Linked DNA regions of Homo sapiens: region 2 is linked to region 1. Evidence: fine-mapped expression QTL. A gene starts in region 1. The other region holds a variant in brackets. All regions are shown on one strand. Distances are between the middles of the regions.

What was found. PIP is the estimated chance that this variant, and not a neighbour inherited with it, causes the effect.
Region 2: its variant is fine-mapped to the expression of ADPRHL1 in monocytes after LPS (Quach 2016, PIP 0.95).

The regions. Positions count from the first base shown.
Region 1 is chr13:113,445,434-113,457,550 of GRCh38, reverse strand. It overlaps ADPRHL1 (ADP-ribosylhydrolase like 1), which reads left to right and starts at 4,063. Exons shown (of 8, transcript NM_001394807.1): 1 at 4,063-4,327. The coding sequence starts at 4,114. DCUN1D2 (defective in cullin neddylation 1 domain containing 2) reads left to right here. Exons shown (of 7, transcript NM_001014283.2): 7 at 1-1,732. RefSeq lists enhancers at 603-1,533, 5,530-6,031, 8,033-8,392, 10,720-11,661 and a silencer at 11,361-11,460.
Region 2 is chr13:113,393,093-113,409,797 of GRCh38, reverse strand. ADPRHL1 (ADP-ribosylhydrolase like 1) reads left to right here. Exons shown (of 8, transcript NM_001394807.1): 8 at 1,578-10,187. The coding sequence ends at 6,420. Among named protein-coding and RNA genes, the nearest start is that of GRTP1, 37 kb to the right of the region's middle. RefSeq lists enhancers at 1,821-2,506, 3,624-4,418, 15,794-16,335 and silencers at 11,470-11,764, 15,407-15,516, 15,527-15,876. The variant C/T (reference allele first, on the strand shown) is at 8,208.

The sequences.
Region 1 (12,117 bases):
CGTAGAGTCTAATGTTTTTTAAAATTGGTGCCAGCAATTCACGATTTATATTTTTTGAATTACCAAATATCTAGATTTACCAGCTCTATTTTTGTTTTCATTTTCTCTAGACATTCATCTGAAAATCATTTTATGGTTCTCAATCCCCATGTAGCTTTGCATAGCAACGGCACACGTGGCACGATTCCAGCAGAGTTTATCTCACACCGTTTATATATCACTGGGCCTCTCTTACTTAAATATTATTTGACCTGCCTGAGAAGCTTCATAAAGTATGTTTTTTTAAAATATATTTTAATTACATTTAAAAAGACATTTTTCCATGAAAAACATTTATTTTATGAGTGATGAATTATAGATTTTAAAATCAAGGCCGGGCGTGGTGGCTCACACCTGTAATCCCAGCATTTTGGGAGGCCGAGGCAGGTGGATCACCTGAGGTCAGGAGTTTGAGACCAGCCTGGCCAACATGGTGAAACCCTGTCTCTACTAAAAATACAAAAATTAGCCGGGCATGGTGGCACATGCCTGTAATCCCAGCTACTCAGGAGGCTGAGGCAGGAGATTCGCTTGAACTCAGGAGACGGAGGTTACAGTGAGTCGAGATCGCGCCACTGCACTCCAGCCTGGACGACAGAGTGAGATTCTGTCTCAAAATAAATACATACATACATACAATAAAACCGAATGAGCTGGTTCTTTCCATCCTCTTGTGGTACCCGTAGTGCCCAGCATCCAGACCTTTGTGCCCCTGTGCACATTTGGAAGCTAAAATGTACATCGTTGTCTGAAAAAACCCAACCCCAAAACCTTCATCTGATTGGTGAGCTGAAGTCTGTCCTTGCACCATGTTATCATCTGTTTCTCGTGTCCGCCTGGTTGAGGAGGACCCACGAGTGCTGCCGAGGTGTGGAGGGCTGGTATTGAGTTGTGGACATCACTGTTGACCCTACCTCACGTGCCGAGACTCTCATGTCACAGGCGTGCCTTGCTGCCCCCCTGCAGCACTGTGCAGGACGTGGACCAGCTGGAGCTGCTGCCCAGCACAGAGGAGAGTCGCCGCAGATGACCTAGCTGCGGTGTGAGAGAGCATGGCCCAGACAAGCAGCTGGGTTGGCTTCTGAGAACAGGACTTACCCTGGGCTTCAGGAACATCTGATGGCTGAGGTTAGTGTGCTTGGAGGCTGCAGGACGAACTGTCGATGTTTCTTAGCAGAGATGGTCACAGAGGGCAGCAGGGACAGGACTGGAAGGGACCTGCAGCCTGCAGACCCCGCCTGGCCCCCGCTGGCTTCTGGCTGGTCCAGTGATGGGCAAGTGACAGACCTTCCCCAGGCTCTGCTTCCAGAACTCTAATGGGAAACTGGGCCTGTCTACCTTTAGAAGTCTTCGATTCTCAGAGAGCATTTGTCTAATACAATAAAAACTGGCATTAATACAAACCTCAAAAACGTGAGCGTATCTTCCAGGCTTCATGGATTCTTGACATGTAATTGTTTTGTTCAGAAAAGTTTATAGAATTCACATAATTCTGTATAAACTATGGAGATCCACAGTACTTTTTTGTTTTTGAGATTTAAAGTTCTAAGGGATTGTCAATAGATATCAAAATATTAATCATTGGACAAAGGCTTTTCCAAAAATTGTGGGTTTTTTTCTTCTGTTGTATCCATTTGAGTCCTGCATGCTGTGAAATGCTGAGAACAGAAGCATTAAATTGGTTTTTCTCGGGCGTGGTTTCCTTTCGATTCTCCTCAGCTGCAGGGATGTCTGCCTATAGGTGTCAGCATCCACGTCATTGTCCCAGGATGAGAGAACAGCCCCCAGCTAGCAACCAGCGGGCAAGCCCCTGCCCCCGTGTGTGGCCCGCCAGCCCTGGCCAGGTAACCAGGTCCTCAGGTACCTTCTGTCATTGCGTTGCCTCTCAGCGGTGCACCGTGCACCTGATGGGGTGGCTCATGTGAGGAATGAGAGATCTCACAATAGGCAGGATTTACGGGAGTGTGTCGGGGCAGGAGGTCATGTGTGCCAGCACAAACTGCTGGAAACCGTCCCTTATCGGAGGCAAACGGCCAAGCACGGGGGTCTGAGGATCATGTGCTACCTGCCGATTCACGGTGCACCTGCCAGCGTTCCGGAATCAACAACGCCAGCTCCTCTCAGTGACATTGTACATGTCATTGTGTTATTTTCGCTTGAAGTTTATATCCATTTTAGACCTCAGGCTTCTTGGGGCCAAGAATAAACTTTCTTCTGATCCTTGTTGCTGTGTCCACAGTTTCAGGTACAAAGTAGGGGCTCTGCAAATATTTGTTGGATAAACGAGCTAACCTTATCCCGTCCTGTTTGCTGAGGGAGCCAGCTAGTGCTCTTGGCAAAGGTTTCCGCCGCCTGCGAACTGAAGCGCTCAGCGAGCGGGCTGTGTTAATCCCCTCAGCAGCACACGCTTCGGCCCCACAGTGCAGTTGTGCCTAAAACAGGTGAGAGTTTGAACGAAGGGCCGCCCCTCCTGTCTGTCTTGTTTGGATAGGGACCCTGCGTGCATGCTGTTTTTTGTTTTGGAGTTTTGTTTGTTTGTTTGTTTGTTTCTGAGACAGAGTTTTGCTCTTGTTGCCCAGGCTGGAGTGCAATGGCGTGATCTCGGCTCACTGCAACCTCTGCCTCCTAGGTTCAAGTGATCCTCCTATCTCAGCCTCCCAAGTAGCTGGGATTACAGGTGCCCACCACCATGCCCGGCTAATTTTTGTATTTTTAGTAGAGACGGGGTTTCATCATATTGGTCAGGCTGGCCTCAAAATCCTGAGCTCAGGGGATCCGCCCGCCTCGGCCTCCCAAAGTGCTGGGATTACAGCCATGAGCCACCGCGCCCGGCCTGCATGCTGGTTTTGAAGTTTGTTTCTGAATCTCAGGATCATGCTAGCTGGCATGACTGTGCTGATGGCTGCCTCCACCAGCAGACAGTGGAGGGTGAGGTGAACTCACTGCTTGAGATCCTCCGTTTTAACAAGTGCTGATATAACGCCAGGCGGTTAAATGCTTCCTACTGTCTCGCTGTACACTACGAGAGTTTTTATCAGACGCATTTCTTCAGTCCAGGTGTAACTCTTTGCTTCCCCTGGGTCTGATGGAAACCAGGCCCCGAGGAAGGAGACGGGAGAGACACAGCCCTGCTGGGCTCCCGGCCTCTGCGGAGAACTGTCCTGGGGTGGGGTCGGGAGATGGACTGTTTTCCTAATTTATTTCAAACCAGGAACCCTGGCTGTGTGCATTCTGCCTCACCCCCCGTCTCCATATTTTTTAATATTCTTTTCATGAGCTAGCAGGGATGATGTAAATACACTGAGCTGACCGAGGGCCGGATGGGAGGTTCTAGTGAAGCCTGCGGTTTGCTGACGACTTTCCCCCTCAGTGCAGTCCAATTATTTGGGAGCCGTTAAACACCGCATGCTGAGAAGACACCGTCATTGTTCACACAGGAGCTAGATAGACTTTGTTCCCTCTACACTGCATTTTTTAAAAGTTTTCTATCAAAAACACATTTCATAATCGAAAAGTTTTCTAAATGATAAAACCGCATGTCACAGATTAATCTCAACATTATGTTGAGTGAAGGAAGCCAGACACCGAAGGCCACACATTGTATTTGAAATGTCCAGGAAAGGCAGAACTGTAGAGACAGCAGATGGGTTGTTGCCCGAGGGGTGAGGGCACGCCCCGCAGCGGGCGGCAGTGACAGGCACGCCTGCACACATCTGCTCCCGCATCACCCCACGCCACACACGGGGAAGTGTGCGCACTCCTTCCAGGGACAGCGAGAGGAGCCCCTGCTCTGTCAACGCTCTGAATGTGCTGCGGCTGCCGGCAGAAGCTAGCAGGCTCCTCTGCTGAGGAGCTGGTGCCTGTCCAGACGCAGAAGAAAACTGACACCTCCCACGTGGGGGACAGAAAGGTCCTCTCATTGGTGCCACCTGCAGAGATAGACAAGGAGCGCCTGGCCATCAGAGGACGCTCCTGACAGTGACACAGTGACCACTATAAAAGTCAGGCGGGCTGAGGAGGAGACAAAGGCCAGGACGCTCCGCAGCTGTTGGGGAAGAGGAGCTGCCTCCTGGGATGGAGAAATTTAAGGCTGCGATGTTGCTGGGGAGCGTCGGCGATGCTCTTGGCTACAGAAATGTCTGCAAGGAGAACAGCACTGTAGGCATGAAGATCCAGGAGGAGCTGCAACGTTCCGGGGGCCTGGACCACCTCGTACTCTCGCCAGGAGAATGGCCCGTGAGTGACAACACCATCATGCACATCGCAACCGCCGAGGCCCTCACCACAGGTAGGCTGGGCCCACCGCGCTCCGGTGTGCGGGCTGGAGGGAACACTGGCTGCTCGAGTTCTCCCAGTAAGCCTCCGAGAGCTTTGAAGGCAGTGCGGTCCTTCAGCGGATGGTGTTACCTGATACCGCTGCTAAAAGTGGCAATTTAATCTGAGTGTCCCTCAAATTTGATATGCGGCAGATCACGTTTCTCCTGTGGTTTCTCTGAGGGTGACAGTATTACTTTACTTTGCAGTTATTAAGATTCAGTTTTTAAACGTGACTTTTCACTTGTATTTGTAAAGCGTTAACTAGGCCTAGCACCTTCTGTTTCTAATAGAGTTAAAGCCAGTGAAGCCTCTCTCGGCCGTGCTGGTGGGAGTAGGGTGAGGGCTCACTTCTCGCTGCAGAGATTAAGCCTTCTTGTTCTGAATTCATTACAAAGGGATGTAAAATAAGCCAGTTTGAAATGTGAACCCATTAATACTGTTTGGGGATTAGTTCTAAATTCCAATGAATTAAAGTTAGAATATCATCTCCCAAAATGGTTCAGCTTGGAGAGTTGCCCATACACAAATGTGTTCTAAGAAAATGACATAAACTTGATTGGACGAGATTGGAGACAAAGCTTCTTAAAATACCTTTAAGTAGCAAATTGATTTTAGGATCAAGCTTTTGCATGAATTTCAGGGAAATGGCAGGTGCACAGACATGCAGTCCAGCTTTCCTACGAGGCATTTGCTCTTCAAAACCCCGTGGGTGCTGTTTATCATGGCAGAATTAAAATCTGAGGGCTGCAGCTAAGTCAATGAAATCTCACTTATGCGTTCACTCCACCATTCTGTTCATCTGCCATGGACGTGCCCAGTTTAGTTCTGTGCTCACAGCAGAGGAATGCCATCGAGCCTGTGGCCGGTCCCTAAATAACGGGAGAGCTGAAGCGCCGGCGATAAGATAAGGCTCCCGGCTTGCTGGAGACGGGGAGGCGTCCGACTGTTCACAGCCTTGGCGTCCAGGAGCTCCTGCTTCTGGTTTTCCAGGCGGCCACTCGTGTGCCCTTAGGACCAGCAACCCCATGCTTGTGCCCCGCAGCCCAGAACAGGTGCACCCCACACACAGACACCTGTGGGACACAGCTCCGGCTTGTTTTCACCGTAGACGGCTGGAGCTCACTCTTGAGTTTGGCTTCCTCTGGGCGTCTGATGCCGTGTGTGCGCTCATACCAGCTCTGCATGTCCCATTTCTGGTAGCACTTGGTGGGCGTTTTGTAAATGGCAGCGTCCATGGCTGTGGGTCTGGTCCTGCCAGGCCCGCAGGGAGGGCAGCGGCACAGGACACTCCAAAAGTGCACCGACGGAGATCGGCCCAACAGGACACGAAATTCACACAGTTAAAAGGGTTACGGACGTTTAGGGCACTGTTTTTTGTTTGTTTTTTGAGACGGAGTCTTTCTCCATCGCCCAGGCTGGAGTGCAGTGGCGTGATCTCAGCTCACTGCAACCTCCACCTCCCAGGTTCAAGTGATTCTCCTGCCTCAGCCTCCTGAGTAGCTGGGGCTACAGGTGCCCACCACCACGCCCGGCTGATTTTTGTATTTTTAGTAGAGACGGGGTTTCACCACGTTGTCCAGGCTGGTCTCGAACTCCTGACCTCAAGTGATCCACCCACCTCAGCTTCCCAAAGTGCTGGGATGACAGGCGTGAGCCACCATGGGGCGCTATTCTTAAGGAGGAAGTAAGTTTGCTCTAAGCTCTCAGGGTCCTCAGCTGTGGACTGGAAGGGAGGGTTCACTGTGCTGCTGCAGCGTCTAGTTTGTGGGTCATGAGAAAATACGCATCCAAGATCACCCCTGGAATTGCTTACTGTGGGCGGCAAGCCACCCAGGCACTGAGGCAAGAGACAGAGGACACGAGCTGTTCCAGTATAATAAAACAAGAATAGTTATACCAGATATAGATCTTAGATATGATTATATATGAATATCATTAATCATTAGTTTGTAGCAATTACTTTTTATTCCAATATTATGATAATCCTCGCTCTATAATCATAGCCTAGGAAAAACCAGGCCATACAGAGATAGGAGCTGAGGGGACATAGTGAGGTGTGACCAGAAGACAAGAGTGCGAGCCTTCTGTTATGCCCGGACAGGGCCACCAGATGGCTCCTTGGTCTAGCTGTGACGCCAGCGTCTGGGAAGACGCCCGTTACCAGGCGGATCGTGGTCCAGCAGTAGCAAAAGGTGGCAAGGAACAACACCTGCTACTTAGCAGACCAGGAAGGGGGGGGGGGTCTCCCTTTCCCCAGGGGAGTTTAGAGAAGACTGCTCTTCCACCTCTTGTGGAGGGCCTGACATGAGTCAGGCTCGCCCGCAGTTATCCGGAGGCCTAACCGTCTCCCTGTGATGCTGTGCTTCAGTGGTCACACTCCTAGTCTGCCTTCATGTTCCATCCTGTACACCTGGCTCTGCCTTCTAGATAGCAGTAGTAAATTAGTGAAAAATTAGTACTATCAGTACTAATAGTCCCTGATATGCAGAAATAATGGCATAAGCTGTCTTTCTCTCTGTCTCCTCTCCCTCTCTGCCTCGGCTGCCAGGCAGGGAAGGGCCCCCTGTCCAGTGGACACGTGACCCACATGACCTTACCTACCATTGGAGGTGACTCGCATTCTTTACCCTGCCCCTTCTGCCTTGTATCCAATAAATAACAGTGCAGCCAGACATTCGGGGCCACTACCGGTCTCCGTGCATTGGTAGTAGTGGTCCCCCGGGCCCAGCTGCCTTTTCTCTTATCTCTTGTCTTGTGTCTTTATTTCTACACTCTCTCGTCACTGCACACAGGGAGAGACCCACCGACCCTGTGGGGCTGGTCCCTACAGCTTACCCCTCTAGAAACCAAAGCAAGCAGATTTTTTTCAACTCACTAAAAATCAAAGTCGAAATTTCACTTAAGTTTATCTTTGTTCTTTAAATAACAAATTGTAGCCTATGGAAGGGGGTCTTTAAGCTGTGTTAACAATGGTGAGGGCTGGGCACAGTGGCTCACGTCTGCAATCCCAGCATTGTGGGAGGCCACGGTGGGCAGATTGCCTGAGCCCAGGAGTTCTAGATCAGCCTAGGAAACATAGCAAGACTCCATCTCTACAAAACGACAATGGTGAGTGCTGACTCCACAGCACTTCTGTACCAGGCATTGTTCCAGCTGCTTCACGCATGTTATCCTCCACACATGCTCCTCACATCACCGTGGAGGCTGATTTTATCACAATCTTACAGGAGAAAAAATTGACATACAGAGAGGTTCAGGCGCTTGCCCAGTGCCACACAGCCCAGCGAGTGGCAGAGCTTGGACGGGAACCAGAGAATCTGGCCCCTGTGCTCGTAAGCATCCTCCCTGACTGCTGAGATCACGGTGGCCTGCAGGTATCCTAACAATTGCAGTGTGCAGGGGCTCTTCAGCATGCTTTCCAAAGACAGGCAGACTTTTACAAATGGAACTACGTTTGGCAGCTTTAAGTAAGCTGCACTGAAAAGTCCTTCACCCCACGAGCCACGGGGCTGTGTGGTCTGGCAAACCCTGGCTCTGCTGCTAGAGTGAGCACAGGTCTGAGGGTCGGGGCAGCCTGTGTGGCTCCCTCCTTCCGGGTGAGCCTCTCTGAACCGGGCTGCCTCCTTCCGGGTGTGTCTCTCTGAACGGGGCTCCCTCCTTCCGGGTGAGCCTCTGAACAGGGCTGTCTCCTTCTGGGTGAGCCTCTCTGAACCGGGCTGCCTCCTTCCGGGTGTGTCTCTCTGAACGGGGCTCACTCCTTCCAGGTGTGTCTCTCTGAACAGGGCTGCCTCCTTCCGGGTGAGCCTCTCTGAACAGGGTCCCTCCTTCCGGGTGTGTCTCTCTGAACAGGGCTCCCTCCTTCCGGGTGAGCCTCTCTGACCGGGGCTCACTCCTTCCGGGTGTGTCTCTCTGAACAGGGTCCCTCCTTCCCGGTGAGCCTCTCTGACTGGGGCTGCCTCCTTCCGGGTGAGCCTCTCTGACTGGGGCTGCCTCCTTCCGGGTGAGCCTCTCTGACTGGGGCTGCCTCCTTCCGGGTGAGCCTCTCTGAACAGGGCACGAGAGCAGACTCTGAACCAGGAAGTAGCCGTGTCTAGCGCTCTACAAGACACATAGGAGAGGTGGCATCCATGGCCCTGAAACGACAAGCCCATGTTGCCAGCGCATTATCACCAAGTCACTTGGCAAGCGTTTAGCAGGTGTGTGTGTGTGCCAGGCCTGGGGAGGGGCGGCCTCGCACAGAGAGCTCGGCCATTGCTCGGGTATGCAGCTGGCCATTCCCAGCTCCCTACCCCCACTCCCTGGGAAAACTGGGGAAGTGGCTTCCCTCCCAGGGCCTTCCTCCCTCACAAGGTCACAGAGGATTAAACGGAGCAACCAGCAAAGTGTGAGGAAGCACTTAGGCCAGTGTGGGAAGTTGGTGCAGGCCCGTGTGGCCGAAGGCACATCTGACATGTCTCTGCCCTGAGGCTCACTCAGCCAACTTCAGGGCCCAGCAGGATGGCGGGAGGTGTCACCTGGCCACAGCCTCCAGGGCACAGGGCCAGCACCTTCTCAGCCTCTCCCGGGGCCCTGATAACTGGGAGTGGCACTTCAGCTCATGGCAGAAAACGTTTGGAAACAGTTGACATTTTGCTACAAGATCACTGGATGTTAGTATTTTGCCTTTTCTTTATTGAGACATGGGTTGGGAGACTCAGGCACCATTTTTTTTTTTTTTTTTTTTTTTTTTGGGACATAGTCTCACTCTTTTGCCCGGGCTGGAGTACAGTGGCGCGATCTCGGCTCACTGCAACCTCCACCTCCTGAGTTCAAGCGATTCTCCTGCCTCAGCCTCCTGAGAGGCTGGGCTAACTTTGTATTTTTAGTAGAGACGGGGGTTTCACTATGTTGCCCAGGCTGGTCTCGAACTCCTGACCTTATGATCTGCCCATCCCAGCCTCCCAAAGTGCTGGGATTACAGGTGTGAGCCACTGCACCCGGCCCCTCAGGCAGCTTTAGAAACTGATTTGTCTTTCAGGAGACCAGACAGGGAAGACAGGAGACAGGAGTGGAGTGTCCCAAAGGAAAGAGACCCGGGGAGAAGCCCAAGGGTAGCAGCTTTGAAAATCTGTTTCTCGCTTAAATTCTAACCTGAAAAGACAATGCTGTTTGTGCCATTTTGTTTTATGGCTTCTGTTTGCTTTGAAAAGGCTAAATTTCAGTTGAATACAGACATTTCATGTCTAATTCCAGAATAAAATGAATCCTTTTAGGGGACTCAGGAAGGGCTAGGCTTGTTAACCCAGGACTGAGTTGAGAAAGGCTGTTTGTGGATCCACTGTGCCGGTGACTGTGAGGGGCACACACTGGGTTTAGACACAGCCTGGACAAAGCCACGCAGCTGTACCCCCATCCAGGGGTTTCGGGTGCAGGCGAAGGTGACCTTAATTCCTGCAGGAATGCAGCCCTCACACCTCTCCTATGAGACTGCAGGACTCGTGTCTCCCAAACCACAGTCTTGCCACATTCTCTCTCCTCCCTGACTCAGAACTGGGGTGATGAACATGGCGTCATGTAAAACAATACTGTGCATGCACACAACACCATGTGTGCAGACAACATGTGTGTAGACACCATACACATACAATGTGCATGTAGACACCATGCACACAAAACACCGTGAGTGTAGACACCATGCACACACAACACCATGAGTGTAGACACCATGCACACACAACACCGTGCATGTAGACACCATACACACACACCACCATGAGTGTAGACACCATGCACACACAACACCGTGCATGTAGACGCCATGCACACACAACACCTTGCATGTAGACGCCATACACACACAACACCGTGAGTGTAGACGCCATGCACACACAACACCGTGCGTGTAGACGCCATGCACACACAACACCGTGCGTGTAGACGCCATGCACACACAACACCGTGCGTGTAGACGCCATGCACACACAACACCGTGCGTGTAGACGCCATGCACACACAACACCGTGCGTGTAGACGCCATGCACACACAACACCGTGAGTGTAGACGCCATGCACATACAACTTGCATGTAGACACCATGCACACACAACACCGTGACTGTAGACACCATGCACACACACCATGCATGTAGACACCATGCACACACAACACCGTGCATGTAGACACCATACACACACAACACCGTGCATGTAGACACCATGCACACACAACACCGTGCATGTAGACACCATGCACACACAACACCGTGAGTGTAGACACCATGCACATACAACTTGCATGTAGACACCATGCACACACAACACCGTGACTGTAGACACCATGCACACACACCGTGCATGTAGACACCATGCACACACAACACCGTGCATGTAGACAACACTGTGCGTGTAGACAATACTGTGCATATAGACAAAGCCATGCCTGTATGACAACACGGTGCATGTAAACACCCTGTGTTTACACAGCGCAATGCTATGCATTTATGACAATATCATACATGCAGGACAGACAATACCATGTGTGTAGACAACACCATGCACATACAACACTGCGCATGTAGACACCAGGTGTGTTGGCAACACTGTGCATGTGGATAACACTGTGCACATAAGACAACACTGTGCATGTAGACAACACCGTGAGAGTAGACAATGCTGTGAGTATAGACAACGCCGTGCCCATATGACAACACCGTGCATGTAGACAACACTGTGCACAGGCCAGCCGGCCACGCCTCCCAGGACTGCCCCTCTCTTCAGAGGCCTCTGCTGGGCCGGGTCAGGGAACTGGTGGTAGGAGGACACAACATACAGTCCTTGTCCTGAGCACTTCTCCGGGGGTTTGCAGCCACGGGAGCCCTCTCTCTCTGGGGGGTTCACAGCCATGGGGCCCTGAGTGCTCTCTCTGGGAGGTTCACAGCCACTGGGCCCTGTGCACTCTCTCTGGGGGGTTTGCAGCTGCAGGGCCCTGAGCGCTCTCTAGGGGGTTCACAGCCAAGGGGCCCTGCTTGTTTTCTCTGGAGGGTTTGCAGCTGCGGGCCCTGCGTGCTCTCTGGGGGGGAGGGGGGAGGGGGGGCCTGCAGCTGTGGGGCCCTGCGTACTCTCTCTGTGGTAGGAGGTGAGGAGGTTTGCAGCCGCCGGGCCCTGCACGCTCTCTCTGTGGGGTTTGCAGCCGCTGGGCCCCAAGCACTCTCTCTGGGGGGTGTGCAGCCTCAGGATCCTGTGCACTCTCTCCAGGGGTTTGCAGCCATGGTCCCTACACGTGCGTGCTCTCTCCAGGGGTTTGCAGCCATGGTCCCTACACGCGCGTGCTCTCTCCAGGGGTTTGCAGCCATGGGGGCCCTGTATGCTCTCGCCAGGGGTTTGCAGCTACAGAGGTTTCATGTCCTGGAGGAGGAGTGACTTTGCCAAGTGCCCTTCCTAATCTCACCAACCCATCCATGCTAGGACATCTGGCTCTGATGCGGCTGAAAAAGGCCCCAGCCACCAGCAGGAAGGTCTTTTGCTTCCAAGTGCCATTTCTGCCCCATGGAGGGTGGGCCAAGCCTCCATCTTCGCCTCCCTCTCCCCATTCATTCCCACCCCTCCCCTCCCCAAAGGTGGGGAATTCATCACCAAGGAAAAGGGAGCAGTGGCGTCTCCCGGGGCTGACCCGCAAGCCCAGAGTGCAGTTTTAGTACAAAATGAAAACAAGTTGCTGGGTGTTAAAGTGGCCGTTGGGAGGGGCGCCCTCGCCGGCCCCACCTGGTGGGCATCCGCCTGCCAC
Region 2 (16,705 bases), 50 kb after region 1:
CCTGCCTCAGCCTCCCAAGTAGCTGGGACTACAGGCGCCCGCCACCACGCCCGGCTGATTTTTTTTTATATCTTTAGTAGAGACGGGGTTTCACCGTGTTATCCAGGATGGTCTCGATCTCCTGACCTCGTGATCTGCCAGCCTCGGCCTCCCAAATCACGCTGAGATTACAGGCGTGAGCCACGGCGCCCGGCCTCAGCTTCTTAAAAACAATCGGGTTAGAGTGAGCTTTTCACTTGGCACCACGTCACCAGCCGCATCCGGCCACCGACTCTTCTCCCACAAATGTGGACGTGCCATTGTGCGGCCGCCCTGGAGTTGGACATCGAGGATGCTCTAGATTTTTCAACATTATAAACGGCACCATGAAGGCGACTTTTCCTGTAATACTCGAGTCTTTGTTCCTCATCCCTGATGATCTCCTTAGAATGAATGACTAACAGGTGTGACAGCTAAGATTCTGGGTGCGTCTACCCAAAATTATCATCTGGGGAGGTCAGAGACGGCTCCACCCCCTGCCACAGATGGGGAGACCTTCCAGCTTTGCTCCTGTGGTCACGGCTGCTCAGGAGCAGAACTTACCCCGGACCCAGGCTCAGAAAACACCATCAAATCACAAAGACCCTGTCTCTCCAGCCAAGACCCATTTGGTCCCGTCTCTTTGAAAGCTGGGCTGGTGGGAAGGAATCCCTGGTGAACCTGCAGAAAAACATCTCACTGGGAAAGGGCGGCAGCCCCCAGCCTCAGTGGCTCCTCTAAGCCATTTTGAAAGGGGTTCCGGAGACCCAGCCAAGTGATCCCAGCCCTCCTCCCTCCTCTCTGCAGCCCCCTCTTTCCTCCCTCTCTGCAACCTCCCCTCCTCTCTGCAACCCGCTCCTCCCCTCCTTTCAGTAGCCCCATCTTTCCCTCCTCTCTGCAGCCCCCTCCTCCCTTCCTCTCTGCAGCCCCCTCCTCCCCTGCTCCTGGTGGGCACTGCCCACTGCAGTGCTGGTTCCTGCCCAGGAGCTTGTGAGGAAACTCTTTCTGCCTTCTCCGCCCACCCCAAGCCTGAGCGGTTTGCTGAATCTTCAGTCTCTGCTGTAGGGACCCAGGTCCCTGGGATCATGGCAGAATTTAAATATGCTGTTAATTTTATCTTTCATACTTAAAGGTAGAGACATACACAGTCCACACAGAGAATAGACACTTCTTTATATGTGCTTTTTTACCTACTGTACAAGCAAAGTATGTTTGTTAAAATTTTCTTTTAATATGTTGCATATGCAAAGTGGTTTTCCAAACGCTTTCACTAAACTGTTCAATGTCAACTCCTCAATGCCCTTAGGAGGAGCGTGTGTCAGAAGTTCCTGCCATTTAACAGGAAACAGTGACCCAGAAAAGCTTTGGCATCCCTGCCAACCCCGAATTAACAGCAGAGACAGCCCAGAAGCCACAGCTCCTGGCTCCTAATCTCTTTTTCTCCCTACCAGACTTTTGGGGCCCCTGAAAAGGTGGGATTGCCCCATGATAAATGTTCTATAGAGTCATCTTGGAGAAAAATGATGATGAAGTAGGTGATGATTCCTTTTTCTCTGCAGCCGGAAGAGCAGCAAGACCTGCAGTGACGTCATGTCTGTGGACGCCCAAACCCTGAAGAAGAAGATGGGCAAGCTGGCCTGTGACCCGGCCGCCCACTCCATCCTCAGCAGCCTGCTGCTCTACGTCACGGGCCGCGCAGACCGGCCCCCGGGGACAGAGGCCGGGGGGAGCAGGCCCAGCCACCAGCCCCAGACCCAGGAGGCCACCCAGCGGCCCACGCGCTTCCAGCTCCTGCAGGCCAAGTTCCTGGGCACTGGCCGGGAGCGCTACCTCAAGAGGACCAGGGAGGTGGGCCGGCTGATCTCCAAGGACAAGCAGGGGCCGGGTGGGGGCCTCGTGGGTGCCACCATCAACAAGCTCCTGGAGAAGACCAAGGAGCCGGCCCCAAAGCCCTGCCTCAGCGAGAAGCCCCGCTGGGGCCACCCGGCCGGGAAGAGCACCGTGAAAAACATCCTGAAGATATTCTTGGCCGCCGAGGAGAAGGAGGCGAAGGAGAAAGAAGCACGCGAGAAGCCCCCTGTGGAGCGGCCCAAAGCCGCCAGGGGCCTCTTGCCGAAGATCATGGGCAAGAGCTCGGTGCTGTCCAAGCTGCGGGAGAAGTTCGAGCAGAACAGCTGCCTGTGCTCCGAGGCCAGTGCGCTGAGGCTGCACACGCAGGAGCGGAAGAAGAGGAACCTGCAGAGGAAGAGGATGCACCGGCCGGAGGTGCGCGTGCTGCACACGGCCACCATGGCCAGCACCTGCGTCAAGATGCCCCCTGCCCGCTTTCTGGCCTGCACGGCTGAGCCCCTGCCGGCCCTCAGCATCGCCACCGTCGTCTGTGGCCCCAGGAGCTGGCTGTCCCACTGCACCAAAATCAGCCACTCGGAGGCAAGGCGTCCACCCAGAGGAGAAGCCAGCGTGCCCCCTAGTGCCAGGGAGACGGGGCCCAGTGGGAACAAAGCAGTGGGAAAGGGGCCCCTGGAGGAGGAGCCCCAAAGACAGCCAAGGCCCTCGAAGCCCGTGACACCCCAGGTGATGGCTCAGAGGGACGGCCACGCTGTCCCCTCGCTGGCCTTCTCTTGTGCTCCCTGCACAGGTGGAGTCCTTCCTGGCCTTGTGCCTGCATCATCCCCACTGGGACCGGCCAGCCCTTGGGGCACCGGATCAGCCGGAGGTGATGGGACTGCAGACCCCACCGCAGAGAGCACCGCAGGAGGCGTCCAGGAGGTGAGGGGAGCCAGGCTCACGTGGCCTCCTGGGCCCCCAGGCGAGTGTGCAGGGGAGGGCCCTGAAATCACCATGACTGTTTGCAGTTCAGAGGATGAAAGGGAAGGAGCAGGCTTCCCAGACCCAGGGAGAGACCCCCTCTTTGCCACCCAGAAGTATTTCCCAGAACAGAAGGTGCCGGAGCACATCCCACCCCTGAACGCTCCATCGGTCCAGGCTGCTCGGAGAACACAGCCTGCCACGGAGCCTCCACGGATAACTGTCCAAATTCCAGTTGTCCATGAAATGCCAGCCCCTCCCACCAGGCTGCAAAATATGTCAAGTGGTGAAAACAAACCTTGTATTTGTGGAGGAGAGAATGTGGTTGAAAATGCCCACACAGAATTTCCCACCGTGACTGAGAACAGAAGGGGTCACCGAGCCCCAGTGGAACTGAGCAAGCTTTCAGGGATGCAGGCGGGACTCAGCGCCTCTTCGCCGCAGGGGCCACGGGCAGCTCCGCGTCTGGCAGCAGCAAGAGGGGCTGTGGGCGCCGACCACAGTGTCCCAGAGACACTTCTGACACAGAGACTCCAGACAGATCCTGCTGGCGGGAAGGAAAACAAAGGCAGCTTTGAGAATTCACACGGTCCCAGGAATCCTGACGATATTTCAGGAGAGAGGACCTCTGAGCTCAGAGATGTGAAGCATCCGTTGCCGGAATCTAATGAAATATCAATGCAGAAGAAGGGCTCCGCAACAAATGATCCTGCAGCCTCACAAAACCTTCTGAGGGGAAACACCAGCCATGCCTCCAGCAGCCAGCAAGTGCCGTCCCCGACTGGGAGAAACCCAACAGGAGCCCCCACGTCACTGGCGGCATCATCCAAGGGGCGTACGGGGCCTGAGGGTGTCACCCCGATGGGCATGACAGTGCCCGGTGCGCTGGAGGAATGCAGAAGGCCGCTGCTAATAGAGTCTTCTCAGCCCCTGAAGGCTGCCGAGGAAATCACCAGCCATGATGTTCGCGAGAACCCACTGTCCTCATTAAATGAACCACCCAAACCAGGTATGAAAGCCTGTGGGGCGATGGCAGCTGCAGGGAGCGTTGCGAGCCGCGCCACGCCTGCACCAGCGCCAGGCAGCACCCAGAGCCCTGGAGACCGCACAGCGGGAGAGCCAGAGACGCTGGGCCAGTGGGGAAGCAGAGCCTTGTCCGAAAGCCACCCCAGAGGAGAGGCTCTCCCTCGAGACCCTCACAGCCACGGCCTCCTGGCCCCTGGGGGATCCTTGGAGCCCAAGAGTGGAGCAGCAGGGAGGAGCCTCCTGAGAGGCGTGGCCCTCGTCCAGCACCCAGAGGACATTGCGACCCTCGCCCGCCACCCGGAGGATGCTGCGGCCCTCGCCCGGCACCCAGAGGCGGCCCGATTATACATTTCAAACACATCAGCAGCCAGCAGACATACAGCAGCTGTAGGAGGCAGAAAGGATGTGGCTGTGGAAGGAAACCTTTTGGGTTTCAGCACAGAGTCTGGAATTCCTGCTTCTGATCATCCTAGGCCACAGGCAAGGAGCGTGGCAGAGTCCCCCAGCTATGGCCCTGGCCTCCCGCCGTCGCCTCCTGAGAACCCACAGGCAAAGGGCAGGGAGGGCGTCAGGTTTCCCCGTGGGGCGGAGCCTGACCATCTGCTTCCCGCAGTGCCTCCCGCGGAGGTGGACATGGGGTGGGTAGGTGGCACCCACCAGCGGGGCCCTCCCCATCTACAGGCACACCTGCCCCCTACTGCTGGTGACACACAGGCAAAGCTCCGGGCCAGTGTCCCCGAGCCTAGGACGCAGGCAGGTGAATCCCAGGAGCGTCCCCTGACACAGGCGGACCTGGGGAGGCAACAGAGTCACCAGGCACAGGAGGAGACCCCCCAGCCCGGGGATGCGGGGAAGAGGGTGGCGCCGTCGGGCTCGAAGGTTGTGCTGAACCCAGCAAAAGAGCCTCAGACATGGTGGGCACAGGATCTGGCCGGGGACAAAGGGATGGCCATTGGGGTTGGGGGCGCCTGCCAGCGCAGTGACCAAGGTCAGCAGCATCTGCAGGGACCCTGGGAGGAGCGGGGGCGGAGCACGGCGTGGGGAGAGGGCACCAGGGCTGCCAGGAACCCAGCTGTGCCTCCAGGGGAGCCCGAGGGGCCGGGAAGCCCGGCAGCCCAAGGACAGGCCCAGAAACAGGTTCAGGAATGGGACCGGGGACAGGTTCAGGGACACGCTCAAGAACAGGCCCAGTGGCAGACCCAGATAGAGGCCCAGGGGCAGGCACAGGAACAGGCTCAGGGTGGGACCCAGGGACACAGTCAGGGACAGGCCCAGAAACAGTTTCAGAATTGGGCCCAGGGACAGGCTCAGGGACACGCTCAAGAACAGGCCCAGTGGCAGACCCAGATAGAGGCCCAGGGGCAGGCACAGGAACCAGCTCAGGGTGGGGCCCAGGGACAGGTTCAGGGACAGGCCCAGAAATGGGCTCAGGGGCAGATTCAGGGACAGGCCCAGAAACAGGTTCAAGGAGAGGTTCAGAAATGGGCCCAGGAAGAGGCTCAGGGACAGGCCCAGTGGCAGACCCAGATAAAGGCCCAGAAATGGGCTCAGGAACAGACCCAGAAAGGGGCTCAGGAACGGGTTCAGGGTCAGGCCCAGAAAGGGGCTCAGGAACGGGCCCAGGAACAGGCTCAGGAGCAGACCCAGATAGAGGCTCAGGGTCAGGCCCAGAAGGGGGCTCAGGAACGGGCTCGGGAACAGGCCCAGAAAGGGGCTCAGGAACGGGCTCGGGAACAGGCCCAGAAAGGGGCTCAGGAACGGGCTCGGGAACAGGCCCAGAAAGGGGCTCAGGAGCGGGCTCGGGAACAGGCCCAGAAAGGGGCTCAGGAACGGGCTCGGGAACAGGCCCAGAAAGGGGCTCAGGAACGGGCTCGGGAACAGGCCCAGAAAGGGGCTCAGGAACGGGCTCAGGAACAGGGTCGGGAGCAGACCCACATAGAGGCTCAGGGTCAGGCCCAGAAAGGGGCTCAGGAATGGGCTCGGGATCGGGCTCGGGATCAGGGCTGGGAGCAGACCCAGATAGAGACTCAGAGGCAGACCCAGAAAGGGGCTCAGGAACGGGCTTGGGAACAGGGTCGGGAACAGGCCTTGACAAGTGGGATGGCGCCTCGGGCCTGGGAGCAGCCCATTAGTGGCATAGCTGAGGGAGTGGATGCTGCTGGCAGGAGTGGGGGGTCCAGAAGCCCAGCCCCCAGGGATGGTGGACAGTCAGGGGGCAGTGGCCTGGGGGAGCCCAGCGCCGGGTACCCACCCCCAGGAAGCCGCCCCCTCAGGGGCAAGAGCATTGCCACCTCTCCCCTGGGGCTGGGAAAGAGCCCAACTGAGCCCAAGCCTGAGGCTGGGGGCTGCGGGACTCCCCAGGCCCCGGCCCAGGAGGGGTCCCCAGACCACCCTGGGGCTGAGAGGGCCCTGCAGGACAGGATGGAGGCATCGGAGCCCGAGCGTCGCGGGAGGTCCAGGCACCTGGCCAAGTACAAAGCCCAGAGCTTCCGTGACCAGAGGGCCTTCGATTTGTCCTTCAGACCAATGAGCGTCAGGGCCAGCGACACGTCTGAGCTCCCAAAGTGAGGCCCCGAGTACACACCGTGGCTCGCCCAGCACTGTGACATCCGCCCATTGAGGGACTTCAGGCATTTTCCTGCCTCCAAATGCGTCTTGGAGCATCCCCTACAGAGACGCCTGTTTCCATAATTTTCTTTCCCTTCTTCACAAGCTGACCTTGGGAGGATTGAGCTACATGTGGGTCGGGTTCCTGTCACCCCACAGAGCCACGAGGCCATGGGGGTGGGAGGTGCGGGCCTGTGGCCTCACCAGGCCCTCGGGATTCTTTGTGTCTTCACTCGGGGGCGCCGGCTCACCCCTCTCTCACACAGCCTGCAGCGTGGAGCTCACACCTCCCGCAGTGGCACGGTGTGTGCGTCCCCTTCGATCTGCAGGATGCTGGCACTTTGGGACACCTCCCCAGCTCTCACAGGGCCACCTCCCACTGCTCCCTGCCCACACCCCACCATGCCCTGCTCTGACGTGGCCGCATGGCACCCACCATCCATGGGCCCAAAGTGATGCACACCGCCCCACCCCCATGACTCGAAAGAAAGGGCAGAGCTTCCTCCAGCCTCAGACGCCCAGGTGGGTGCCGGGTGCTGTGTGGCTGCTGGGCCATGTGGTGGTCACCAGAGGGTGTGGGGACGCTGGGATCCCAGGCCGAAACCAGCTCATCCGGAGGAAGAGGCCTCAGGAAATGCCCACGTTAAGTTCTGAGAAAGGGACAGTGCAGAGCCGTGGGAAGCCAGGATCCCAGGGAGGCTTCGTCTGGAAACTGGGTGCTGGGAGAACGAACGGGAGCCTGCCCGCCCTTCCCTGCAGTCCCTGTGGGTGGTGCCACTGGTGCCGGTGACCTGAGAGCCTCGCTGTCTGTCCTCCGTCCTCCCGAACAGCATAGAAGTGTTTCCTGCCCTGGCCCGAGACGGCCCACGACTCCGGCCCTGTTCAGGTACTGAGGTAATGCATGTTCAGGCTGGAATATTTGAATGCTGTCTAGAGGCACAAGAAGGAAATCAAAGCCACCTGTGGTCACATTGCCTCGAGATGGTTTTTGTTGCTACTCTGGACTATTTTTTAGGCTCTTCCTCCATGCACCTATTTTAAAGCACATTCTTCCCCATGATGGAGCCATGCACCTCCGTGTCGCGATCCATCGTCCCAGGCCACTCGGTGGCCTCTGAAACCCGGACCCGTGAGGCCACACGGCTGCCTGAGTGGCCCCGGAGCAGCTGGATTTTCAGCGTGAACCGATGCAGCCTGTCGCCCTACAGCCCCGCACCCTTGTTTTTGGTGGTGCCCTCCCTGTGGAAAGTTAATTCCTGCTTTTTGAAGGTGTCTTGGCATCTTCTGCCTTTGCTACTGAGCGGTTTCCTGAAACAGCCCTAAGCGTTCGCAAAGGCGCTTTGGTGCCTGCTGCGAGCACCTGTTTTCTGACTCGGATGTTCCTTTAGAGGAAGGTGTTTTCCAGTGTCGGCCCTGAGAGGGCGTTCAGCAGGCGCGTCCTACCCACGCGGGGCTGAGGTCTCTCCTTCCAGGGAAGGTCCATCCCGGCAGACGCCAGTGGCTTTGGCTCTGCAGCGCCAAGGAGGCGGCGTGGCGTCATGCTCCGGGGAGCGCACAGGTTTCCTTCCAGTCGAACAATTAACTTCAGATCCAGCAGGTTTGACCCACCCTCACCTGCTGGGACATGCGAGTGCTGGTGTCTGGAAGGAGGGCCGGGCTGTGCTGAGCTCTGGGGGGCCGGTCCCCACAGCTCCCCCGACAGGGCCCCCGGGGCCTCCTCTATAAATCAGGGGTCCGTGCTCCCAGCC[C/T]GCTTCGAGGGGTTTCTGCTTGGCGTGTGGGTTCTAAGTGCGAGCTGCTGTGTGTGGAGGCTCCTGAGCACCGGGTGCCCCTCGCGCGTGTGGGTCCCGGGGCAGCCCAGCTGCACACAGGATGGTCCGGGGGTGCGGGTGGGGGCAGAGCTGAGCATGGCGTGTACTTGGCCACAGAAGTCTTGCTGTGGTGCCGCTGGACCCCTGCTAGGAGGACAGGGTCCCCTCTCTCACGAAGCACACGGACCTCCAGAGTCCCTGCCCCTGCAGTCCTGGGAGCCTGCAGTTGGGGCTGGAGTTGGCCTCTCGGAGCCACCCAAACGGAGAGGCCCATGAGAGGGGAGCTCAGGGGTCCAGCAGAGGCTGACAGAGTGGCCTCTTTGTCCTGTTGGCGGCCCCTGCTCATGCCTGGGGCGTCCTCCCTGGAGCTGGGGGAGCTCAGGGACCCCCAGGTCTGTGTGGCTGCCCCTGCCACTCCAGGCACAGCGGCACGGCCCTCACTCTTTACCTATTTGGAATTGGAGGCAATGAGTGGCAAGAACATGATGACAGACACGGGAGGTAAAAATATGTTCACTGGCTGTTCCCTTTATAAATAAGAAGTGGTGGGACTTGCGCTGCTATTTTTAAATAGACCAGAGAGTACACTGGAGAAGGCATTGAGTGGTTTTATTTTAAGTGGTGGAAAAAATGATGAGAATCTCCTCCAGATGACAGCTCCGGAAGTGTCGTGCCTGAACCCCTCTCACAGTCTGGCGGGCGCAGAGTCTGTGAGCGGCCAGGAGGCCACCTGCTCGACTGGCCCGTCCTCTCCATGTGCCAGATGCAGCCCAGCATGACACTGCCCTCAGCTCAAAAACAGCACAGCTACTCTGTGTGCAGGAAAAAACTGCCAGTGACTTCACCAGGATTTGAGAACGGTCCGTACGTTCACACTAAGCTGAGACAGCGCAGGTTAGAAGATAGCGCGGGGAAGTATTCACACTTCAGATACGACCATCACGGCCACATGGCTAAGGCCCACACCCTCCCGGGGTGAAATAACTACAGCAGAAGAATGGGGCGCTAACCACCTCCACGGGCATTTTAAATAAAACCCAAAGTTGTTTTGTTTTTTTAAAAAAAAAAAAAAAGAAAGAAAGAAAGTGGCCGGGCACGGTGGCTCATGCCTGTAATCCCAGCACTTTGGGAGGCCGAGGCAGACAGATCACGAGGTCAGGAGATCAAGACCATCCTGGCTAACACAGTGAAACCCTGTCTCTACTAAAAATACAAAAATTAGCCGGGCGTGGTGGTGGGTGCCTGTAGTCCCAGCTACTCGGGAGCCTGAGACAGGAGAATGGCGTGAACCCGGGAGGTGGAGCTTGCAGTGAGCCGAGATTGCGCCACTGCACTCCAGCCTGGGTGACAGAGCGAGACTCCGTCAAAAAAAAAAAAAAAAAGAAGAAAAGAAAAGAAAAGAAAACAGGATATTTATTTTAGCTTCTTAGTTAACATCATTAATTTTGTGTAGTTGAGCGACTCGTTGACTGCCTCCTCCCTGCAGTTTTTTACGGTGCCTCCGGCTGTCGACAGGCCCACTGTGAGCCGCAGGTCTGTGGGTGCAAGTGACAACAGCCGGGCGGGAGGCGGTGCACTCAGGCGGCAGGAAGGTCCCGAGACGGCGACGAGAATGTGGTCATGTTCAGGACACTCGCTCAGGGAGGGTCGTTGTCTGGGATTTTACACGCTCAGCACCACCTCCTTATTCTGTTCTCAGGGTATCTCTGCTGTTGGAGTTACGGTCTTTCGGTTGTGTATTAGGCTACAGCTATTTATTAAATTTGTTCTTGTTCATATTCTTCTTTGTATATAAACAACCCTAAAATGGGTTAGTCAGAAAAAATTACTAAATGTCATTTGTTGTATTCTCTCTGTATTTTTACTAACATCATTCAGCTGGAAATAATTTCAAAAAGAAATAAAATACCTTTCCCATTACAAATCTCTTCCTTGCATTGTTGAAGCAGCCGCATAAATGAAGTAGGACTCAGGCCTGGGGCGAGGGGCAGAGCCCCCATCGGGTGAATGTGGCCAGCCTGGAGCAGTGATCCTGGGCAGGAGGGAGGGTCTGGGGCAAGGCCCCAAGTGGGAGGAGAACTCCTTAGGATGTGCTTAGAGAGACAAGGCCATGCACTCCCCAGACCCTCTCTTGGTCCAGTCAAGACTGTGCCGGCCTCGGAGCAAGACCCAGGGAGCTGGACTTCGGCCACTGCACCTGGGCCGCGGGGGGCCAAAGGGCTGGGGTGTCCTCTGGGACACGGAGGGAGACTGGACAGAAGGGAGGGAAGGAGTATGGGTGCAACGGGCCCAGCAGGCCTGTGAGACACCCTCTGCCCTCCACTACTCTGTATGCAGGAGAACTTTGTAAGTGACTTTTCATGAGGATTTAACAACGGGTGGTTTAAGCTCACGCCAGACCTAGCTGGGAATGCCTGCATTCCAAACCCCTGCTGTGCCCGTGGGTGGCGCGGGTTCTTGGCATCTTGTGAGGAGGAAAGCTTGTTCCACTGAAACGAGCTGATGCCTCGTGTCTGAGAGCACTGGCCCGGCAGCCGAGGCTTTGGGATGGTGCAGGCACCTCTTGTCCTGAAAGAAAACCCCTGTCAATTAAGCTATGACACAGGCTTTCATTAGAACTTTTATTTTATTTTATTTCATTTATTTATTTTGAGACGGAGTCTCGCTCTGCCACCCAGGCTGGAGTGCAGTGGCGTGATCTCGGCTCACTGCAAGCTCTGCCTCCCGGGTTCACGCCACTGTCCTGCCTCAGCCTCCTCAGTAGCTGGGACTACAGGCGCCCGCCAAGACGCCCGGCTAATTTTTTGTATTTTTAGTAGAGACAGGGTTTCACCACGTTATCCAGGATGGTCTCGATCTCCTGACCTCGTGATCCGCCTGCCTCGGCCTCCCAAAGTGCTGGGATTACAGGCGTGAGCCTCTGCGACCGGCTAGAACTTTTAAAAGCACTTATTGAGGGCGTCTGTGAGACTGGTGTACATAGAAGTCTGATCAAACCCCATTCTTGGGATATTGTTATAAGCTTGGGGTAGACAAATGTTTCCCTGAACAGAAGAAAAAGCCCCAACCACAAAAGGAAGTGCCGGGACATTTGTCTGTTTGAGCGTCGGTGCATTTGCTGAATCTTTATGGCCGCCATGGATTTTTGACAGGAATGGATGTCACGTAGCCCCCAAAGCCCAGGACTGAGCAGCTGAGCAGTGCACGCCGTTTCTCTGACAGCGAGAGGACTGGCCTGGCTCAGGTCCACAACCCCAGGCGGTGTCTGGGAAGCCACTCGAAGGCACAGGAGCCTACTAGAAGCCCCATCTGTGCACACCCCAAACTCGTGAAAGTGCCGAGGCATCTTCTCCTAGAAGAACAAAGGAGGCCAAGCGGGGAGTGAAGGCAACAGTGTCTACAGTGGTCCGTTTCCAAGACAAAGTGCCTTGAATCGGCTTAAGTCAGCAAACTACAGAAGAAACAGGAGGTCCGAGGCCCCTGCCTGGATCGCCAGTGCCTGCTTGCCGGCCTCCCCTTCTCCCTCCCTTCCCCCCGGCCCTTAGGTGCTCTCACCTGAACTAAAGAAGTTTAGTCTAAGATAACAGTTTACTAGCCTGCAAAATAGCTGGCTTTGTCTGTTCTTATCAGCCTGCCCAGCTACTTAGGTCATAAGTCAAATACTTGAAGAGCCCCTGGGCTGACTGGGATTGCAATGCATTGTGGGCTGCAACAAAATGCAACAGGACACCCCTAAAAAAAACACCTACAGCCCCTGCCCAACAACCAATAGGTGACGTCCCAGAAGACTGTGACCCCAGAGTACTCAGCCTGTGAGGAACCCGGGGAGACACCTGTGCACTAGGGGATAAATTATTTGTTGAAACTGTGCTGGCTGTGGCTGCCCATCAGACACCCGATCTTGCAAGACCATCATCAACAGTCTCACTTTCAGCCAGGTGCAGTGGCTCATGCCTGTAATCCCAGCACTTTGGGAGGCTGAGGCAGGCAGATCACAAGGTCAGGAGTTCAAGACCAGCCTGACCAACATGGTGAAACCCCGTCTCTACTAAAAATAAAAAAATTAACTGAGTGTGGTGGTGTGCACCTGTAATCCCAGCTACTCAGGAGGCTGAGGCAGGAGAACTGCTTGGACCCGGGAAGCAGAGGTTGCAGTGAGCCGAGATTACGCCACTGCACTCCAGCCGGGTGACAGAGCGAGACTCTGTCTCAAAAAAAAAAAAGAAAGAAAGAAAGTCTCCCTTTCACTCTCCTCCGGGTCTCCGAGTCCTTCTTCTGGGTTTGGACAGATGAGTTTGTTTCTCACCACTTGAGACCAGGAGTTCCAGACCAGCCTGGGCAACATAGTGAGACCCCGTCTCTATTTAAAAATGAAAGTAAAATAAAAAATAAAAGAACAAAAGACCACAGGTCATGTTGTATTGAAGAGCGGAGAAAGAGCTGTTGAATTCTCTGGATGGCTGTTTCCTTACGGCCTGTACCACTGGAAGTCATGTCTTAATCCCCAACTGGAAGAAGGCGCTCAACCCACCAGCAAATCTGCACGTAGGGAAGAATTTTCCAAATCTTGAAGAAATAAGAACCCAAAAAAAGCACCAAATAAGTTACAGATTTCCATTGCTCAATCAATAATGATGATGATAAAATAATCAAGAAGCCGGGTGCGGTGGCAGCACCTGTGGTCCCAGCTACTCAGGAGGCTGAGGTGGGGGGATCACGTAAGCCTCGGAGTTTGAGGCCAGCCTAGAAACATAGCAAGATCTTGTATCTTAAAAAAAAATGAATAAAATGTTAAAAAATAAAACAAAATAAGAAACTGATGAAATTCTTGGACTTTGATAACGGCAGGAAGCCGCACACATACAGGAAGAACAAAGTCCAGAAAGAGCTGACGGTGGACGCCCAAGAGAAGAGGCGGCTTCTGCGAGCTCTGTGTCGTTAGGAAGGGAACTCGGCTTCATTTCAAATTCCAAAGGGGCTCAAACATATGAATAAGACCCCAGTCTTTCATGGGAGCCCCAAAAGTGGGGCTATTTTTCTACGTTTTGACAGCTCCCCACAACATGAATCCTGTCTTCTCTCTGCACGGCAGTCCCACATCCCACATCCCCAGCCTTCCTTGCTGCTGGGACGCATGCAGCTCTGCCAGGGAGACGCAACCTCCCCAGGCCGGCAGGGCACAGCAGGTTCTGGGCCCACGGTGAGGACGAGCCGGTGATATGGAGTCTCCTGGGTGTGCAGAGAAAGATGTTTCCAGGGAAGCTGAGAGAAGGAAGCTCATTAGCCAGTGCAGAGCTGGGCTTGGAGGCCTTTCCTCTAGTCCTGCAAGGAGCTGGGAGCTGTCACACTGCTCACCATGTCCCTTTCTGCTCAAATTCCCCAGGATGGATTCTGCCCCCTGCACTCAAGAAAACACAGGGGGCCGGGCGCGGTGGCTCACGCCTGTTATCCCAGCACTTTGGGAGGCCAAGAAAGGCGGATCACGAGGTCAGGAGATAGAGACCATCCTGGCTAACACGGTGAAACCCCGTCTCTACTAAAAATACAAAAAAATTAGCCGGGCGTGGTGGTGGGTGCCTGTGGTTCCGGCTACTCGGGAGGCTGAGGCAGGAGAATGGCGTGAACCTGGTAGGCGGAGCTTGCAGTGAGCCGAGATTGTGCCACTGCACTCCAGCCTGGACGACAGAGCAAGACTCCGTCTCAAAAAAAAAAAAAAAAAAAAAAAAAGAACACACAGGGGCGCCCCCATCAAAACCCACAGCAGACGTGCTGTATCGGACCACATACTGGAGCACACGGGGCTGTCCCCATCAACATCCACGGTGGACGTGCCGTATCGGACCACATACTGCGTGCGTGGTGGTCAAAGACATGAAGTTGAACTCTCATGGGTCTATCAAGTTGAGAACCAAAACCCCCAATTTTTAAAAGGAATCGGTAACACTCACTACCTCTGAGGATGTACGGAGACAGTCATTCCTGATGGGACCAAACATTGGCCCTTCCTTTTTATAAAGCAATTTGGCAATAATGTCAAGAACCTTTAGAAGGGGTGGCTCCTCAGCCCAGCAATTCCAGCTTTGAGAAACTGTATTTAGGAAAAGCAATCTGTCCAGCGTGGTACTACTCAAGATACAGCCATAAGTGACACAAATGTCCACCAATTAAGAGATTAGTTGGCCAGGCGCGGTGGCTCACGCCTGTAATCCCAGCACTTTGGGAGGCCGAGGCGGGCGGATCACGAAGTCAGGAGTTCAAGACCAGCCTGGCCAACACAGTGAAACCCCGTGTCTACTAAAAATACAAAAAATTAGCTGGGCGTGGTGGCGGGCACCTGTAATCCCAGCTACTAGGGAGGCTGAGGCAGGAGAATCGCTTGAACCCAGGAGGCGGAGGTTGCGGTGAGACGAGATCACACCATTGCACTCCAGCCTGGGCAACATTGCAAGACTCCCTCTCAAAAAAAAAAAAGAGATTAGTTAAATAAAGTGTGGTGTCTTATTCAGTGAAATAGCAGTCATTTAAAATTAGCTGAGGAAGAACTTTGTGAAATGGAAAATATTGTACCATTTAATGTTTAAAATCCAATATAAGGCCGGGCGCAGTGGCTCATGCCTGTAATCCCAGCACTTTGGGAGGCCAAGGAGGGTGGATCACCTGAGGTCAGGAGTTCGAGATCAGCCCGGCCAACATGGGGAAACCCCATCTCTACTAAAAATACAGAAATTAGCTGGACATGGTGGCGGCGGACGCCTGTAATCCCAGCTACTCAGGAGGCTGAGGCAGGAGAATCGCTTGAACCCAGGAGGCAGAGGTTACAGTGAGCCGAGATGGCGCCATTGCACTCCAGCCTGGGCAACAAGAGTGAAGCTACACCTCAAAAAGAAAAAAAAAATCCAGTATAAAATAGTAGATTCAAATATGTAAATACGTGTGAAGGGGGCAAAGAAAGAGAAACGCGAAAAAAGGTGAGCAGTGGTTATCCACGAACACCCGATGTGTAGGTGTGTTTTCCCGTCGTTATCTGTCACTGCTTTCTGCGTTAATTTAAATGCACTTGCATCACTTTCAGGATCAGAAAATAAAGGCCTATGTGTGACCCTGGGGCGCTGGCGGGGGCTGGACGGAGGCCCAATGCCCCTGTTGCCCATTGTCTCCAGGCTTCTCCAGGACTCGGCTTCCCGCCTCTCCTTTGGGGACCGCACGAGTCACTGGGGGAGGCTCCGCGGGCAGCAGGTCTCTGGGAGGGGTTGTCGCCCCCTCGGTGCGCAGGGGAGCGACGGGTCCCTCCTGCACCTGCAGGGACAGGCCTCGGGCTGCACCGTCCCGCGCCCGCCTACCCCGCGCCCGCCTCGCCGGACGCCTCCTGCCTGAGTCCGCCAGGGGGCGCTGCCGGCCTCCCGGGCGGCGGCTGCTGCAAGAGGAAGCCCCGGCCCGCGAGCTGCTGCCACATCCGGACGCCGCCGGGAGCCGCCGGGAGCCGCCGGGGTGGGCGGGAGTCGGGGCGGCGCGCAGGTTCCCGGCCCCCTAAGGGACGGTTGCCTTCCCCAGAGCCGGGGACACAGGCGTACGTGCGGGGACCTCGGCGCTGGCCTCCGGGCTTCTGGAGCCCCTCCCTGGTGCGGAGCGGGGACGGTGACCTCCTCGTGGATTCTGGGAGGGGCAGCCTTGGCATCAGGACCTGGAAGCCGGAGAGGCTGCAGGGCTTCCAGCCATGGCCTTGCCACCGGAGGTCACGTAGTGTTTCCACATTTCCTTAGTGTGTACATGTGTGGGTCCCTGTGTTGTGGAGGGCTGTGTCTGCTTGGTGTGTGTGCACACGCGTGTGTGCATGGGTGGGTCCCTGTGTTGTGTAGGGGCCGTGTCTGCTTGGTGTGTGTGCACACGCGTGTGTGCATGGGTGGGTCCCTGTGTTGTGGAGGGCTGTGTCTGGGCAGGCTGTGTACACACCCATGTGCATGTGTGATGCGCACTGGGGCACTTGTCTGGGTAGTAGAGGTGGAGGCCTGTGTGGCCATATGTGCAACTGTGTGTCCGGGTGCGTGTACCACAGTCTTCCCTAAAATAGTAATACTGGGACCTACGTCATGGGGCTGTTGTGACCGCGTGTGGCACTCCATGTGGGGTGGCACAGCCAGGCGCTGATCCGGCCACTTTGCCAGTCGGACTGACTGCGTGTCCTCTCCTTAGGGGTGAGAAGCTTCCTGGCATCGGGCCTGGGCTCCTGAGCCCCTGAGCCAACCGACTGATGGTCCCTGGGAGACAGCCCCCGCCCTGCTCCTGCCCCCCACACCTGAAAGGCTCATTGTGTGGGTTTGCTGTGCTCCACAGGGATGTAAACCGCCCCTCCTTTTCCCTGTTCTGTCTGTGAGAAGGTGCCAGGGATACTTTTTTTTTTTTTTGAGACCAAGCTTCACTCTTATTGCCCAGGCTGGAGC